2 separate regions of the Homo sapiens genome follow, and region 2 is linked to region 1. The links come from fine-mapping of genetic effects on gene expression. Tissue or cell type: whole blood. Region 1 holds a variant in brackets; the other region holds the start of a gene. All regions are shown on one strand. Distances are from middle to middle.

What was found. PIP is the estimated chance that this variant, and not a neighbour inherited with it, causes the effect.
Region 2: ZBTB24 starts here. The variant in region 1 is fine-mapped to the expression of ZBTB24 in whole blood (TOPMed, PIP above 0.99).

The regions. Positions count from the first base shown.
Region 1 is chr6:109,666,072-109,674,175 of GRCh38, forward strand. It overlaps AK9 (adenylate kinase 9), which reads right to left. Exons shown (of 41, transcript NM_001145128.3): 4 at 6,044-6,096; 5 at 5,848-5,944. Among named protein-coding and RNA genes, the nearest start is that of AK9, 21 kb to the right of the region's middle. The variant G/T (reference allele first, on the strand shown) is at 3,291.
Region 2 is chr6:109,479,689-109,487,785 of GRCh38, forward strand. ZBTB24 (zinc finger and BTB domain containing 24) reads right to left here and starts at 3,531. Exons shown (of 7, transcript NM_014797.3): 1 at 3,410-3,531; 2 at 1,387-2,366. The coding sequence starts at 2,338. ZBTB24-DT (ZBTB24 divergent transcript) reads left to right here and starts at 3,956. Exons shown (of 4, transcript NR_187591.1): 1 at 3,956-5,149. RefSeq lists an enhancer at 1,022-1,523 and silencers at 3,222-3,511, 3,592-4,031.

The DNA of each region.
Region 1 (8,104 bases):
CTCTCTCTTGAAAGGCCATTGTTTGGGCTGCCTGAATGTTCTGAGCTATGAATTGTGGGGCTCTACCCTCTGAGAGATGTCTAGTATTATCATTCCAGAGCCTAGGGGTGTATCTATGGGAGGAGGTGTGGGATAGACAATTATGTCATCTAAGTTTGTCTCACCATTGCAGATGTAAAGTGGAATAGATTAGTCCTCTAGTCCCAATTCTGGAAGATCCCAGGGACACACTGCTTGTTAAACAGACCAGAACTACTGAGCCCAGTGTCAACCTTTCCAATTCCAGAGACATGTGAGGATGAAAGCACAGATGAGGAACTCCTCGCTCCCACCCCACATGTCCTTGAGACCATTACCAAGCCCTTGCCCTTCCATGCTAACGATGGAGGAGTGGCGCACCCCAAGCCAGTCCTTGCTGGGAGACTTTGCATGTTCTATCATAGGCAGACTAGGTGCTTTGTAGGCCATTGCCCAGTTCTCATTAGCTCAACCAATGAGAAACTGTAAGACTGTCCAGACCACTGCCCAGAGGAAACTGACTTGTCTCAGGCCCATACCATCACTTTGCCACCATTTCTTGGCACAGTGGGAAGAAGGCATTTTCTATTTCCATACAAATGAAGATGGCAGACTACTGCTTTCAGATTGAAGTGATGACAGATTCAGAGATATCAGGTAGCTTTGTGTTCAGCCATCCCTGCTACCCATCTGACCTCTGGCCAGGCTGATGTAGCCTTGTGTCCAGCCATCTCTTCTACCCATCTGACCTCAGACCAGGCTGATATGAGTGGACACATTGGTGACCAATGACTTGCAAGACTATTCATAAAGATATACTCGGGGCAGGGAATGCCCAGACTGGGGCTATTCATTCACTGGGGAAAACGAGATTTTCCAGAATCTAGAAGCAGGGAGCAGTGAGGAGCTTTTAGGATGCCACATATTGACTCTATCTGTTTCTCTTGGGTAAGGATATAGCTCCGAGAAGCTGATTTTGGCTAAGGGCCAAAACAACACAATAGATTGTGAATGAAAAGATAATTATAGATCGTGTAGGCCCTTTTAAAATAGTGATGGAAACACCAATTATTAAAAGGGCTCTAGTATAAAACAAAATTAAGATGAATTTGGCAATACTCTGCCGTGTGATGTCCCTGGAAGTGCACATATCTCTTCAGGGATTTTGGAGTCATCAATTATCCATCCTCACCCAGCCCCCCACTCAAGTTGTTTTTTTTTTTAATTCTCTTTGTTATTTTATTCCATTAATCTCATTTTGAAGTTACTATTTTAGTTGTCATTTGCTTAATTATTTTTTCTTTTGTTTTATTTTATTTATTTTTAATCATACTTTAAGTTCTAGGGTACATGTGCACAATGTGCAGGTTTGTTACGTATGTATATGTGTGCCATGTTGGTGTGCTGCACCCATTAACTCGTCATTTACATTAGCTATATCTCCTAATCCTTTCCCTCCCCTCTCCCCCCATCCCACAACAGGCTCCAGTGTGTGATGTTCCCCTTCCTGTGTCCAAGTGTTCTCATTGTTCAATTCCCACCTATGAGTGAGAACATGCGGTGTTTGGTTTTTTGTCCTTGCGATAGTTTGCTGAGAATGATGGTTTCCAGCTTCATCCATGTACCTACAAAGGACATGAACTCATCATTTTTTATGGCTGCATAGTATTGCATGATGTATATGTGCCACATTTTCTTAATCCAGTCTATCATCGTTGGACATCTGGGTTGGTTCCAAGTCTTTGCTATTGTGAGTAGTGCCACAATAAGCATATGTGTGCATGTGTCCTTATAACAGCATGATTTATATTCCTTTGGCTATATACCCAGTAATGGGATGGCTGGGTCAAATGATATTTCTAGTTCTAGATCCCTGAGGAATCGCCACAGTCTTCCACAATGGTTGAACTAGTTTACAGTCCCACCAACAATGTAAAAGTGTTCCTATTTCGCCACATCCTCTCCAGCACCTGTTGTTTCCTGACTTTTTAATGATTGCCATTCTAACTGGTGTGAGATGATATCTCATTGTGGTTTTGATTTGCATTTCTTGGACGGCCAGTGATGATGAGCATTTTTTCATGTGTCTGTTGGCTGCAGAAATGTCTTCTTTTGAGAAGTGTCTGTTCATATCCTTTGCCCACTTTTTGATGGGGTTTTTTTTTTCTTGTAAATTTGTTTGAGTTCTTTGTAGATTCTGGATATTGGCCCATTGTCAGATGAGTAGGTTGCAAAAATTTTCTCCCATTCTGTAGGTTGCCTGTTCACTCTGATGGTAGTTTCTTTTGCTGGGCAAAAGCTCTTTAGTTTAATTAGATTTCATTTGTCAATTTTGACTTTTGTTGCCATTGCTTTTGGTATTTTAGACATGAAGTCCTTGCCCATGCCTCTGTCCTGAATGGTATTGCCTAGGTTTTCTTCTAGGGTTTTTATGGTTGTAGGTCTAACATTTAAGTCTTTAATCCATCTTGAATTAATTTTTGTATGAGGTGTAAGGAAGGGATCCAGTTTCAGCTTTCTACATATGGCTAGCCAGTTTTCCCAGCACCATTTATTAAATAGGGAATCCTTTCCCCATTGCTTGTTTTTGTCAGATTTGTCAAAGATCAGATAGTTGTAGATCTGCGGCATTATTTCTGAGGCCTCTGTTCTGTTCCATTGGTCTATATCTCTGTTTTGGTACCAGTACCACACTGTTTTGGTTACTGTAGCCTTGTAGTATAGTTTGAAGTCAGGTAGCGTGACGCCTCCAGCTTTGTTCTTTTGGCTTAGGATTGCCTTGGCGATGCCAGCTCTTTTTTGGTTCCATATGAACTTTAAAGTAGTTTTTTCCAATTCTGTGAAAAGTCATTGGTAGCTTGATGGGGATGGCATTGAATCTATAAATTACCTTGGGCAGTATGGCCATTTTCACGACATTGATTCTTCCTATCCATGAGCATGGAATGTTCTTCCATTTGTTTGTGTCCTCTTTTATTTCATTGAGCAGTGGTTTGTAGTTCTCCTTGAAGAGGTCCTTCACATCCCTTGTAAGTTGGATTCCTAGGTATTTTATTCTCTTCGAAGCAATTGTGAATGGGAGTTCACTCATGATTTGGCTGTTTGTTATTGGTGTATAAGAATGCTTGTGATTTTTGCACATTGATTTTGTATCCTGAGACTTTGCTGAAGTTGCTTATCAGCTTGAGGAGATTTTGGGCTGAGACGATGGGGTTTTCTAGGTATACAATCATGTCATCTGCAAACAGGGACAATTTGACTTCCTCTTTTCC[G/T]AATTGAATACCCTTTATTTCTTTCTCCTGCCTGACTGCCCTGGCCAGAACTTCCAACACTATGTTGAATAGGAGTGGTGAGAGAGGGCATCCCTGTCTTGTGCCAGTTTTCAAAAGGAATGCTTCCAGTTTTTGCCCATTCAGTATGATATTGGCTGTGGGTTTGTCATAAATAGCTTAATTATGATTAGATACATCCCATCTATACCTAATTTATTGAGAGTTTTTAGCATGAAGGGCTGTTGAATTTTGTCAAAGGCCTTTTCTGCATCTATTGACCTAATCAAGTTTATATCCCTGTTTTGAAAACCCTTCACTTCCAATTTTGCTTCTACCTTCTACCAGGCTACGGGTTGAGAGCAAACATCAGGATGAGACGCCTTGCTGGGAATTTGGGCAAAGATTTTCAAACTGTATTTAGCCGAGTGCTAGGTTCTAAAACAATTCCTGTGGGATGCTACAGGATGGGTTAAGGGGTGGCTGGGCAGAAGGCGCTTTAGGTTCCATCTCCACTGCAACCTTTAAATGAGCTCGTTTGTGCATGCCTAGAACGTGGCCTTGTAACCAAATGGTGAGGGTGTGGCCCCCAGACTCAGGAAACCATTTATATCACTTTTCCTCTGCCAGCTCCTAGGACAAGTATCGGCATACAGGAAGTACTGGGGTCTGAGGAATGCAATCAGCCAAATCCAGAATGTGGGAAACTCTACAAGACAAATGACCTGTTTTCTTCATCAGAGAAGAAACAATAAGATAGAAAGAAGTAGGGGAAACTTATATATAAAGAGACTTGAGACATACTAATCACTTGTACTATGTGAAACCTGGTTAGATCCTGCTTCAAAAAAAATCAACTAAAAAATATCTATGAGGTAATTAATGAAATCTAGTAGATGATATCAAGGAATAACAATTAATTTTTTAGGTGTGATAATGGTAATGTGTAATAGGTTTAAGTGTCCTTTTCTTTTAGAGATATAAATGGAACATTATACAGATGAACTGATATGATATGGATTAGCTTCAAAATAACATAGGTTGAGAGAAGGGAGTAAGTAGAAGTGTAGATGAAACGAGATTAGACTAGAGTTGGTTTTGGACATATGCTGAACCTGAGTGGTAATGTGGAAGCATCTTTATACTAATCTCCCTACTTTTGTTTGAACTATTTCCTAATAACAACTGTAAAACATTATGAACACCATGAGAGGCACAACTGAGTTTCTTCGTGTTGTTTTTTTTTCTTTCTCCTTTTGCCAATACTTATAATTTATGTCATCTTTTTTGTAGCCATGTAAACCAATTTAAGTTTTTCAAGAGGTAAGTGAGGTTAACAAATAGGTATTTACTTACCTACCTATATACATATCTGTTTCAAATACTATGTTTTCTGAGGTCATTTATTGACGTAATTTGGAATTCTGTGATTCCTGTTTGCCTTTTTACTTATCCAGCCTTCCATATTCTGGATATTTTGCCGTTCAGTCTCTTTATCACTGCTGAACAAATAGGTAATAAGTGGATAGATAGGTAGATAGTTTACAGAGAAACCTTATCTACTTATAATGTATTTATAATCCATATATATTAATCTCTATATATGTATTATATATAAAAACCCATATATCCATATAGAGACCTGTCTACATATGTGGATATGGGACATTCTATGTATCATCTCTCTATACACATGAGCTATATGAAAAGGAATCTTTTTGTCTATAGATAGAAACCAGTAAATACAGTTTGACAAGGCTGCGTTTGCTGCTTCCATCATTGATTTGCTTTGGCAGTTATGGTTTTTACTTTCCTGTATTTTTATTCCTGCATTAATAGTTACAATGTCTTCTTCTAACTTACTAAGAATATAAAACAACTTTCTTAATTTTTCTTTTTTCATTCAGTAAATCCATTTCAGGTGGATGATTTTATCCCAAACTTGTCATTATTCTTCTCCTCTTCTTTTGCAGAGGTATTAGAGTTTGCTCTTTTCTTTTTAATCATTTTGAGCTTCAGTGGTCTTTGTCTTGAAAAATTAGATCCAAAGCCCTTGCTCAGCATCCATTTGAGTACCAGGAGAGGTTTCAGGTCCAGAGTCAGAGGGCAGACTGGAAGAACAGGCTGAAGCCTGACAATATCTGGAGCTCAACAGTAAGATAGTGGCATTCCACTTCCCACTCCCGCCTTCTAAGTGTGGATTAATGCAGACAACCCTAGCCATTGTCAGGACTTAGCAATATAACCCAAGGTGTATGAGGAAGCAGTCAGCAGAGTTAGCAGTACTGCAAGATGGACCACAGCAGATTTCTGATGCTTTTACTGGATAACACAATGTTAAAGAAGATTGGGTCATATAAACTTATTTTTAAAACAAATGTACAATCTGAGAAATAAAAACAAGCAAATAAAACCATCTGAGCTGTTCAACTGAATAGAGATAATGAGATTCTTATGCTAAGGCAAAAGAAAGGGCAACTCCAGAAACTATTTTTGCCTCAGATAAAGCATGAGTTTTAAGGCTGCTTTGTGGGCTGTAAATATATTAAAATAAACATACCAAAGTGACAGACTTCTGGGGAGTTGAGCTTCTCCAACATTAGCTTTATGACAAGTTCATCTGGAATGCTTTGACCGCTGATCAACATTGATTGCAACTAAGGACAAGCATAGATATTGTACATTACTGTATAATATATCTATGATACAGAGCTTTTTTTGTAATCATAGTTACTTTGAAATTTAGGTTTGTTTACCATAACTCCTGATTCGGTTTCAGCAGCAATCTGTTCTTCTAAAATTGGCAAAGCTAAAACATGAATTCAAAATATTAATACAGACTGATATTAAGATCACCAAAATAAGAAACACATTCTAGTGTCTTGTAACTGGTAACAAAGATTAACATTTGTGCATCACTTTATAATTTACAATGCAAATGTATGCATATTACTTCACTTAAGCCTAACCAAAGCAGAAGCAGCAGAATGTCTTCCATAGAGAACTTGTCTCTGCCACTTACTAAGCTTAAGAATCTTGGAGAAGCGAACATGGTGACTCATGTCTGCAATCCCAGTACTTTGGGAGTTCAAGGCAGGAGGATTGCTTGAGCCCAGAAGTTTGAGACCAGCCTAGGCAACATAGGGAGACTACATTCCTACAAAAAGTTAAAAAATTAGCAGGGCATAGTTATGGTGCATGCCTATAGTCCCTGCTACTCAGGAAGCTGACGTGGGGTGATCACTTGAGCCCAGGAGGTCAAGTTTGCAGAGAGCCGTGATCATGTCACTGCACTCCAGCCTGGATGACAAAGTGAGGGCGTGTCTCAAAATAAAAATAAAAAATAAAAAAATAAAGAATCCTGGGGGAGTTAACTCTGTAAACGCCTCTGCACCTTGGATGCATATGTACTGTGTAGTGTACAATAGAACGTAAGGATGAAATCAGGTGGTGTATATGACAGTGATTTCTAAATCATTTAGTTACAAAAGTATGCACTGGTATTAATTAATCCAGATTTTCATAACCATACAATTACATCCAAAGCCTGCTAGTTTTGCACATGGTGTAAAAGGAAATGAATCAAGAAATGTTAAAATGGGTAAACACTGATTAGAAAGAGGGGTCTTGAGGCTGAAATTCCAATGATTTATTTCCTTTAAAAGAGGAAATGTATCATTCCTTGATAGAGGACATCCTGGGATAGGAATGACAGGGGCATGACCCAGGGGAGGACCCAGGAGAGTTGTTATATCATTAGTTATTAATAATCTATGGGATGTTTGGTATTCTTTAAGATTTCCTAGAAGTAAACTTTTTGAACAAAGAAAGAAGAAACTTTTAGAGTTGTGTGTGTGTGTGAGTGTGTGTGTGTTATGTATTACAAATTGTTCTCCAAAAAAATTGTACCAGATTGCAACTTTACTAACAGCATGTGGAATGCCCATTTCATAACATCCTTACCTACAGTGATTGTAGTAATTGTAAAGATTCACTGCCAATTTGATAGGCAAATATGGACCAGTGTTATGTTGATTAACATTTCTTAGAATGATGTTAAACTCTCTTTTCTTATATTGTTTATTTTTATTTCTACTTTTATGAATTGCCTATTCATTCTTTTTCTTATTTTTCTATTAGGGCATAAATAGTTTTATTAATTAAAAGAATATTTATATATAAAGATATCAACCCATTCTCTTATATATTGCAAAGAATGCAAGAAAATTTATAAATAAAAAATAAAAGTTATCATTGAAGACAATTAAGTTCTGAAAAATGTTCCTAAGAAAAGCTGTGAGAGTTCCATCTCATTTGAGCTTTCATAAAAAGACACCCAAACACACATATCCCAAACAGTTCTAAATTACGAATAGAGAATTGGAGGTAGTAGAATAGAGTTGATGACATTTCATAAATGCTATGAACAAAACTAGGACAAACAGAAGGGCAAAACATTATTGGATTGATAATGCTGTTATAAAAATAATATTGGGCCGGGTGTTGTGGCTCACACCTGTAATCTAGTACTTTGGGAGGCCAAGGTGGGAAGACTGTTTGAGCCCAGGAGTTTGAAACCAGCCTGGGCAACAAAGCAAGACCATGTCTCTACAAAAAAAAAAAATAATAATTAATTAAATTAAATATAAATAAAAACCCAAGCAGATAATATTCACTGGGTTGATAGGTGGACAAATGTGTGATAAAGCAAATATAGCAAAACGTTAATCACAGACTCTAGATGGTGAGTATATGGGCATTCACTGTATAATTATCTCCATTTTATGAATATTTGAAAGTTTTCATAATAAAATATT
Region 2 (8,097 bases), 190 kb before region 1:
GGCAGATCACGAGGTCAGGAGTTTGAGACCAGCCTGACCAACATGGTGAAACCCCGTCTCTACTAAAAATACAAAAAATTAGCTGGGCGTGGTGGCGTGTGCCTGTAATCCCAGCTACTCAGGAGGCTGAGGCAGGAGAATCACTTGAACTCGGGAGGCGGAGGTTGCGGTGAGCCGAGATCGCGCCACTGCACTCTAGCCTGGGTGACAGAGCGAGAATCCATCTCAAAAAAAAAAAAAAAAAAAAAAAAAAAGCTAAAATATAACCTATTACAGTTCAACAAATATTTCTCAAGTATCCACTTTGTTCGAAGTACCTGAATTCAAGCTCTTCAACCTATCTGTAGCTAAAGTCTTTAGGGAGCTTTTAAAAGCACCAAGGCTCCAGACAACTAAATCAGAAGCTCTGGGGTGGAGGTCTAGGCACTGGTAGTTTTAGAAGCTCCCTAAGTGATTCCAATTTGCAGGCTGAGAACCACAGCACCAGATACTGCTGGATCACAGGAGAAGACTTAAGCCCCAGTCCCTATACTTAAGATTACAATTAAGTTGAGGGATATACAAGTGGTAACAACAATCTGATCCAAAGCAGAGTGGGTTTTAAGCACCTGAAAGGGCTCAAAGGAGGAAGGGATTTCTCACTAGGACTGCAGTGTCCAATACGGTAGCCACTAGCCACATGTGGTTATTCAAATTTAAATGAATTAAAATAAAATTTAAAATTCAGTTTCTCAGTCACGCTAGCCACAGTTCAAGTGCTCAAAAACCACATGTGGTTACTGGCCACCATATTGGACATCAGAGATGTAGGAACATTTCCATCATCACAGAAGGGTCCCATTGGTCAGCGCTGGGCTAGAGGGACCAAAAATGAGAAGGTATTTAAAGCTAGATAGCTGAGTTACAAAGTGATCTACACAGACTTGGGCAAAAGCATGGTTATGGTCAAGATGAAGAATGTTCAAGAATCAGAAAGCAGGGTACATTGGGCTAGATCTTGATAAGTGGACATTAAAGGATTCATTCAACAACTACAAATGAGAGGGGTTCTTGAACCAGGCTACCTGGGTTCAATCCCAGCTCTGTCACTAACGGGTGACTCTGGCAAGTTATTTAAGCTCCCTAGAACTTGGTTGCTTCATCTGTAAACTATGCACTTTAGCAACCCTCTCTTACATATGAGTAAATATGATTTTAATCATACAATGTATAATGAGGATATTACCCACCTTGCAGGATTGTGGAGAAAATTAACTGCAATAACATGTATAAAGGCTTTATTACAATGCCCATCACACAGAAGTTGCACAGTAAATGGAAGCTATTATTATCATCACTACTCCCAATTCTGCAACACACTGCAATCAGCTTTGAAAACATCATTACCTGTGTGGCTCCTCTGGTGGATTGCTAAAAAGTGATTGTACTTAAAGACCTTGCCACAGTCTTTACAGCGGGCCTCAGGGCCTCCAGGGCGCTTTCTCCTTCCACAGATCCTCTTGGCTGAACCATGGTCCTCTTGATCCCCAACAAGTTTGTAATCTTTAAGTTTGACGGATCTCCAAATCCTCCGCTTGCTGTATCGACTCTGGCTTGCCTGGCCATCCTCGGTCTTGGGATCATAGTTCTCATCTTTTTCAACTGGCATTTCCTCCTCTCTACTTGGCTCACAAGTAGGCTCCGATTCTTCCTTTTCTTTTGCTGCAATTTGCTCATTCAGTACACCACTGTCTCCTTTAACCACAAAGTTTTGTCTATTCTGAACTGAATTGTTCACTCTTAACTGTATTTCTTCCTCTGCAGCCAGTTCTGATTTCTCCTCCTGCAATGTATTGACTTTTTTTGGTCTTCCCCGTTTCCGCTTTGGAGGATCGTTTTTCTTATTAGAGATAACAACCACTGGGGCACCAGCAGTGTTCAAAGTTGTTGGCTTTGGGGAGCTATGATTATTTTGGAAGTCTGTGTAAGCCTTTACCAGGTCATAGACTTTTAAGAACTGAGCAGTAGCCAGGATTTGTTCTGTACTTTTCTCACTGGCATGGAGATAACCTGTGTAGATAAATTCCAGCAGGATACCAAAGGTGTCTGCAACCATGCCTTCCAGCATATAAATGGATTGGCCGATTTCCCCCTCTTCTGCAAACATCATTGAGAAGTATTCACTACTGGCAGCAAGTAAGGCTTTGTGGGCCCGGAAATGTACATTCTCCACGATTAAAGTAATGTCACAGAGGAAGCCTTTCTTCCTCTGATCCTCAAAACTGGCCAGCACAGTGTCACTGTGAGCGTCTGAGTGTACAACAAGCTGCCCAGAAGGCTCTGGCGATGTTTCTGCCATTTTCTTCAGAAGCCACTAAGGGTTAAATCTGAAATAAGAAAACAAGGTTTAAAAAGGAGAAAGCACTGTCTAAAAGGTTAATGCCAGCCCACATGAACTTCCTATTCACTTCACATCATTAACTGAATTTTACCATTACCATTTTTGTCTGTCTACAAACTTAGCTCTGGGCCCGGGCGCAGTGGCCTCACGCCTGTAATCCCAGCACTTTGGGAGGCCGAGGCCGACGGATCACTTGAGACCAGCCTGGGCAACATGGAGAGAATTCATCTATACAAAAAATACAAAAATTAGCCTGGCGTGGTGGCGCCCGCCTGTGGTCCCAGCTACTCAGGAGGCTGCGGCAGGAGCATCACCTGAGCCTGGGAGTTCGAGGTTGCCGTGAGCCGTGATCGTGCCACTGCACTCCAGCCTGGGCGACAGAACGAGACCACCACCTCAAAAAACAAAAACAAAACAACTTAGCTCGCGGTTTTTTTTTTTTGAGACGGAGTCTCGCTCTATCGCCCAGGCTGGAGTGCAGTGGCGCAATCTCGGCTCACTGCAACCTCCGCCTCCCAGGTTCAAGCAATTCTCTCCCTCAGCCTCCTGCCGCACATTAACTAGCTGAGTGACTCTCCAGTATTCATGGAACGGTTCAGGGTCTACCTTCTATAAAATGAAGGAATGGGATTAACCATCTCCAAAATCCTCCGCAAGCACGAACTTTCTATGGTTGCACAACTATTTCAGGGAGAACGAAGCTGCCTCCATCTCCCAGATTATTAGCCATTTCGTATGTGGGAACCAATGTGAAGAGTGAAGAAATGTGCACGTGCAAAGTGAATGTGAGGTAGCTGCAATAAAATACTAATAACTTAAGCTGCGTGGGGCCGCCAGACACACTAGGGGCGGCGCGGAGCCCCCCGCAGCCCCGGGTGGTCCCAGCAGGGAGAGGTGGCGCGGAAAGACCCCCACCTCCCCGCCCAGGCCCCGCGGGCCCGACTGGGGAGCACACGGCGGGGGAGGGGTCGGCGCGGCAGACCTACCGCTCAGGGGCGCCCGGTGGGGTCCGGGTCGCTGCCAACTCACCCGGCGGCCTGGCGGGAGACCCACGCCGGGGCCCGCTGGCCCTCCGCTCCGCCCCGCCCGCCTCTGGGGCTTCTGCGCCGCACCGGTTTCTGCTCCTGCGCCGCCGCCGCAGCCACAGCCACAGCCAACCCGGAAGCGCGGCGCCAAGAGCCGCTTGCGCGCGGACGCCGAACCACGTGGCCCGCAGAGGCGCCCCTGGAGGTGGGGGCCACGAGAGCGGCGGGGAGGGGAAGGGAGGTGAGGGGCGGGGCGGGGCGAGATGGCGGGGCGGGGCGGGGCGGGGCAAGGCGGGGCAAGGCAGGGCAAGGCGGGGCGCGAAGGCAGTTCAAGGGTTGGGGCGTGGCAGGGGAGGGGAGGGGCAAGGCGGGGCGAGAATGCAGGCCTGGGGTCGGGGGAGCCGCGGCGGGGCGGGGCAGGGCGGGGCGAGATGGCAGGCCCGGGGCTTTGGGGCCGGGGCCGGGGCCGGGGCCGGGGCAGGGCGGGGAGGGGCGCGGCTTCGGAGGAGGGACAGTGGCCGGGGCGGGGCGCGGCCAGGGGCGGGGCGGTGTCGGCGCCCGAGGTCCTGCGTGTGGCACTGCCGGGGAGCCCAGGCAGGAGCGACTTTTGCGGTGAATTGGGGGCAATGGACAGGAGAGGCGTTGTGACCCCTCCCTTTGGGAAGTTTTATATCGTATTAAACTGTTAGCTCAACGCCAATACCTTAATTTTATCTCTTCTCCGACACCGAATCTGGTGTTGTTCTTGAATGTATAAAGGCATGAAATCCCCCTTACCGTCATCATCATTGTCATCATCATCACCATCGTCATTATCTAGTGCTAATATAATAACTATTACTTACCTCCTAAATGTTTTTCACATCTGCCTCCTTTTCCTCCCCACTCCTGATGCCTTAGTCTAAGGGAATGAAGAGAGCACTGCAGTCAGAGAAACCTGGGTTCTGAGAGATCTTGGGCAAATTACTTACCCTCACAACTTCTTTACCTTACCTGTAAAATGGAGATGTTAACACTAGTGCCACTTTGGTAGGGTTGCTATTGCATAAACAAAATTAAGTATGTAATGGGCTTAGGAAATGCCTGGTTTAATTCGTCTGCTGTGATTAAAATGATCATTATTATTCAAACTTTCATCATCTTTGTTCAATAGACTGTTTCTAACTGGTCTCAGCTGCAGCGTTGTTCTCTTTAATTCGCAGAAGTACAGAGGATTTCTCCAAGTACATATGAGATCCAGAGACTAGAGTCACTCCTTGGCTTAGAATCCATGTGGCTCCCACATGCCCTCTGGATAAAGTCCAGGCTTCTTAATGTGGTCTACAAGCCCCATCCAGATCTACTCCCCACCTGCTTCCATCCATTTATTTCAGCATTTTCTCTCTCTTAGCCAATACCTAATTACTTATTTTTCTGCCCATTTCCAGATTCCCAACATGCCATCTATAGCCTCCCTGATCTTGAACCGGAGGTGTAATTAGCAACCTGGCTCTTACATTTTTACTAGATTTTATTAAAACTAGCTCAAGCCACACATGCTCCTTCTCTGAGGTTTCCCTTTCATATTGAATTGTCTCTAAGTCCTCTGGATTTGTGGGGGTACAAGTGGGATGGGGAGCGCTCCCTGACTTCTGCATACCAGCAGGAAGTTAGCTACCTCATTGTTTCTTGCTGCTACGAGGGTTGCAGTCAAATCACTGTCCCTCCAGAGGTCCTCAACGGCATAAGAAGACTCAGTGCCAAGGTAAGCCAGGTACTTCCATTTCCTCATTCAATCATTGCTCACTGGAGCATAATCCTGCGAGGAAAGACTGAGTCTGGAGGATCTTCCAGCATCAGCCACCCACAACACAGACTAGCCCTTTCTTCAAGGCAATTTTGTTTTGGATCCATACTGACTTTTTCAAAACTTTTGTTCTTGTTAAGGCCAGCCGGTCTACCCCTAACAGGTCTTCTTAAATTTAAATCTTGCAGAACAGGATTTGGGGTGTCATACATTCATCTAACAGATATTTATCGAGTGTCTACTAAGAGCCAGACATTGGCGTCAGGTGTTGGGGATACAGCAACTAACAAGGCCTTTGCTCTCATGAAGCTTACATTCTACTAAGGGGAGACAGGACAAATATACAAGTAAACTAATGAATAATAGTTTCAGAAAGTGTTAAATTTTATAAAGAATGATGATGGAGACTGACAGGGAAGTGAAATCAGGATAGGGTGACATTTGAGCTGAGATCTGAATGACATGGAGACAGCTGTGGGAAGATCTGGAATAAAAATGTTCTAGGCAAGGGAAAAGCAAGCATAAAGGCTCAGACTGGGAAGGAGCATCTGATGAACGGCAAGGACTGTGTGGCTGGAGCACAGTGAGTGAGGGGCAGCAGATGGAGTGGAGAGTTGCCAGATTTCACAAATAAAGACACAGGACACCCATTTAAAAAAATAAATGCTGCCTCAGCCTCCCATGCTGGGATTACAGGCATGAGCCACCTATACCCAGCCAACAAAGAATTTTTTTTCATATAAATTTAGTGTAGCTTAGAGCGTACAATGTTTATAACGTCTACAGTAGTGTATAGCCATGTCTTAGGCCTTCACATTCACTCACCACTCACTCACTGACTCACCCAGAGCAACTCCTATTCCTGTAAGCTCCATTCATGGTAAGTGCCCTACACAGGTGTACTTTTTTTTTCTTTTATACTGTTTTGTTTTGAGACAAAATCCCACCCTGTTGCCTAGGCTGGAGTGCAGTGACATGATCTCAGCTCACTGTGACTTCTACCTCCTGGTCTCAGGTGATCCTCCCCACTTAGCCTTCTGAGTAGTTGGGACTGCAGACATATGCTACCACACTCCACTATTTTTTTTTTTCCGTATTTTTTGTAGTGATGAGGTTTTGCCATGTGGCCCAGGCTGGTCTTGAACTCCTGGGCTCAAGTGCTCTGCCCACCTAGGCCTTCCAAAGTGCTAGGATAACAGGCATGAGCCATCAGTATACTGTATTTTAAGTGTCTTTCTTATGTTTTGATATGTTTAGATACAGAAATACCACTGTGCTACAGCTGCTTACAGTATTCAGTACAATAACATTCTGTACAGGTTGGTAGCACAGGAGCAATAGGTTGTACCATAGAGCCTAGGTGTGTAGTAGACTATACCATCTAGGTTTGTGTAAGTTCACTCTGTGATGTTTGCACAGTGACGAAGTCACCTAGTGATGCATTTCTCAGAACATATCCCTGTCATTAAGCAATGCATGACTGTACCTATAAAAGAAAACCAGTTAAAATGACAGCTGGTTTCTCAACAGCAATAGTAGAAGCCAGAGGTTAGTGGCATGATACTTTCAAAATTCACCTAAAATCTTTTTTATAGACTACAATTATCATGGAAAAGGACAAAATCAAGACAATTTTGGTCAAACAAAAAATAAAAGTATTAACCTCCAACAAACCCATACCATAGGAAGGAAAATAACACCAAGAGGAAAGTCTGAGGTATAAGAGGGAGTTGTAAGCCAAAAAAAAAAAAAAAAAGAGAAAAAAGTAAGTATGAAGGAAATCTAAACAAACATTGATTATGCAAAATAATGTCTAATTCGGAGAGTAAACAAATAGAGTAGATCTAAAATATTGAATGAAAATACCATTTAAGATGGGAAGCTGGTTATCAGTATTCCAGTGTTTTAAGGGTACAGCTATTGATTACCTTGAGGCTTTACATATACATGGTGAAAGAGTAAGGGACAGCCACTTAATTGGTACAAATAGAGTGCATACTTCAAACACTGTAGAGGAGATAATGGCATTTCAAAGTTATTGGTCAATGCCAGGTCGGGTGCAGTGGCTCATGCCTGTAATCCCAGCACTTTGGGAGGCCAAGGTGGGCGGATCACTTGAGGCCAGGAGTTCAAGACCAGCATGGCCAACATGGCAAAACCCCGTCTCTACTAAAAATACAAAAATTAGCCGGGCGTGGTGGCACAGCTACTTAGGAAGATGAGGCACGAGAATCTCTTGAACCCGGGAGGCGGAGGTTGCAGTCAGTTGAGATCATGCCACTGCACTCCAGGCTGGGCGACAGAGCAAGGCTCTGTCTCCAAAAATAAAAAATAAAAAAAAATAATAAAAAAAAAGAGAGAGAGAAAGAGAAGGATGGAGAGAATGTTAAAGGCAAGAAGAGCCAGATCATGTAAAGTCTTTTATGCCAAGAAAAAGGAGTTTCGATTTTAACTGAAATAGGAGGCCACTGGAAGATTATTCAAAAGGACTGTTGAATCTGACTTATGTATTTAAAAATTACTCCAGCTGCTAGATGAAGAGTAGATCCTGGAGGGACATGAGTGGAGGCATGGATATGAGGGTGACAGCAGTGTAAAATGTAAGAAGAGCCCATATTCAAGGTAGATTTGGGGGATAGGTCTTTCTGAGAGGACTTGCTGAGAATAGATGTGCGGAGTGACGGAAACAATGCAATCAAGATTGACTCCTGGGTTTGGGGCTAAATCAACAGAGTGTACGGTGTTACCATTAACTGATCTGGAAGAAGAGAAGTTGGGTTGGATAACAAGTATGGGGTGGACATATTAAATTTGAAATGTTAACTAGATAACCAAGTACAGTAGGCAGTCATAGGTAACAATCTGGAGTTCAGAGCTGAGAACAGAATTGAGATATTAATAATGGA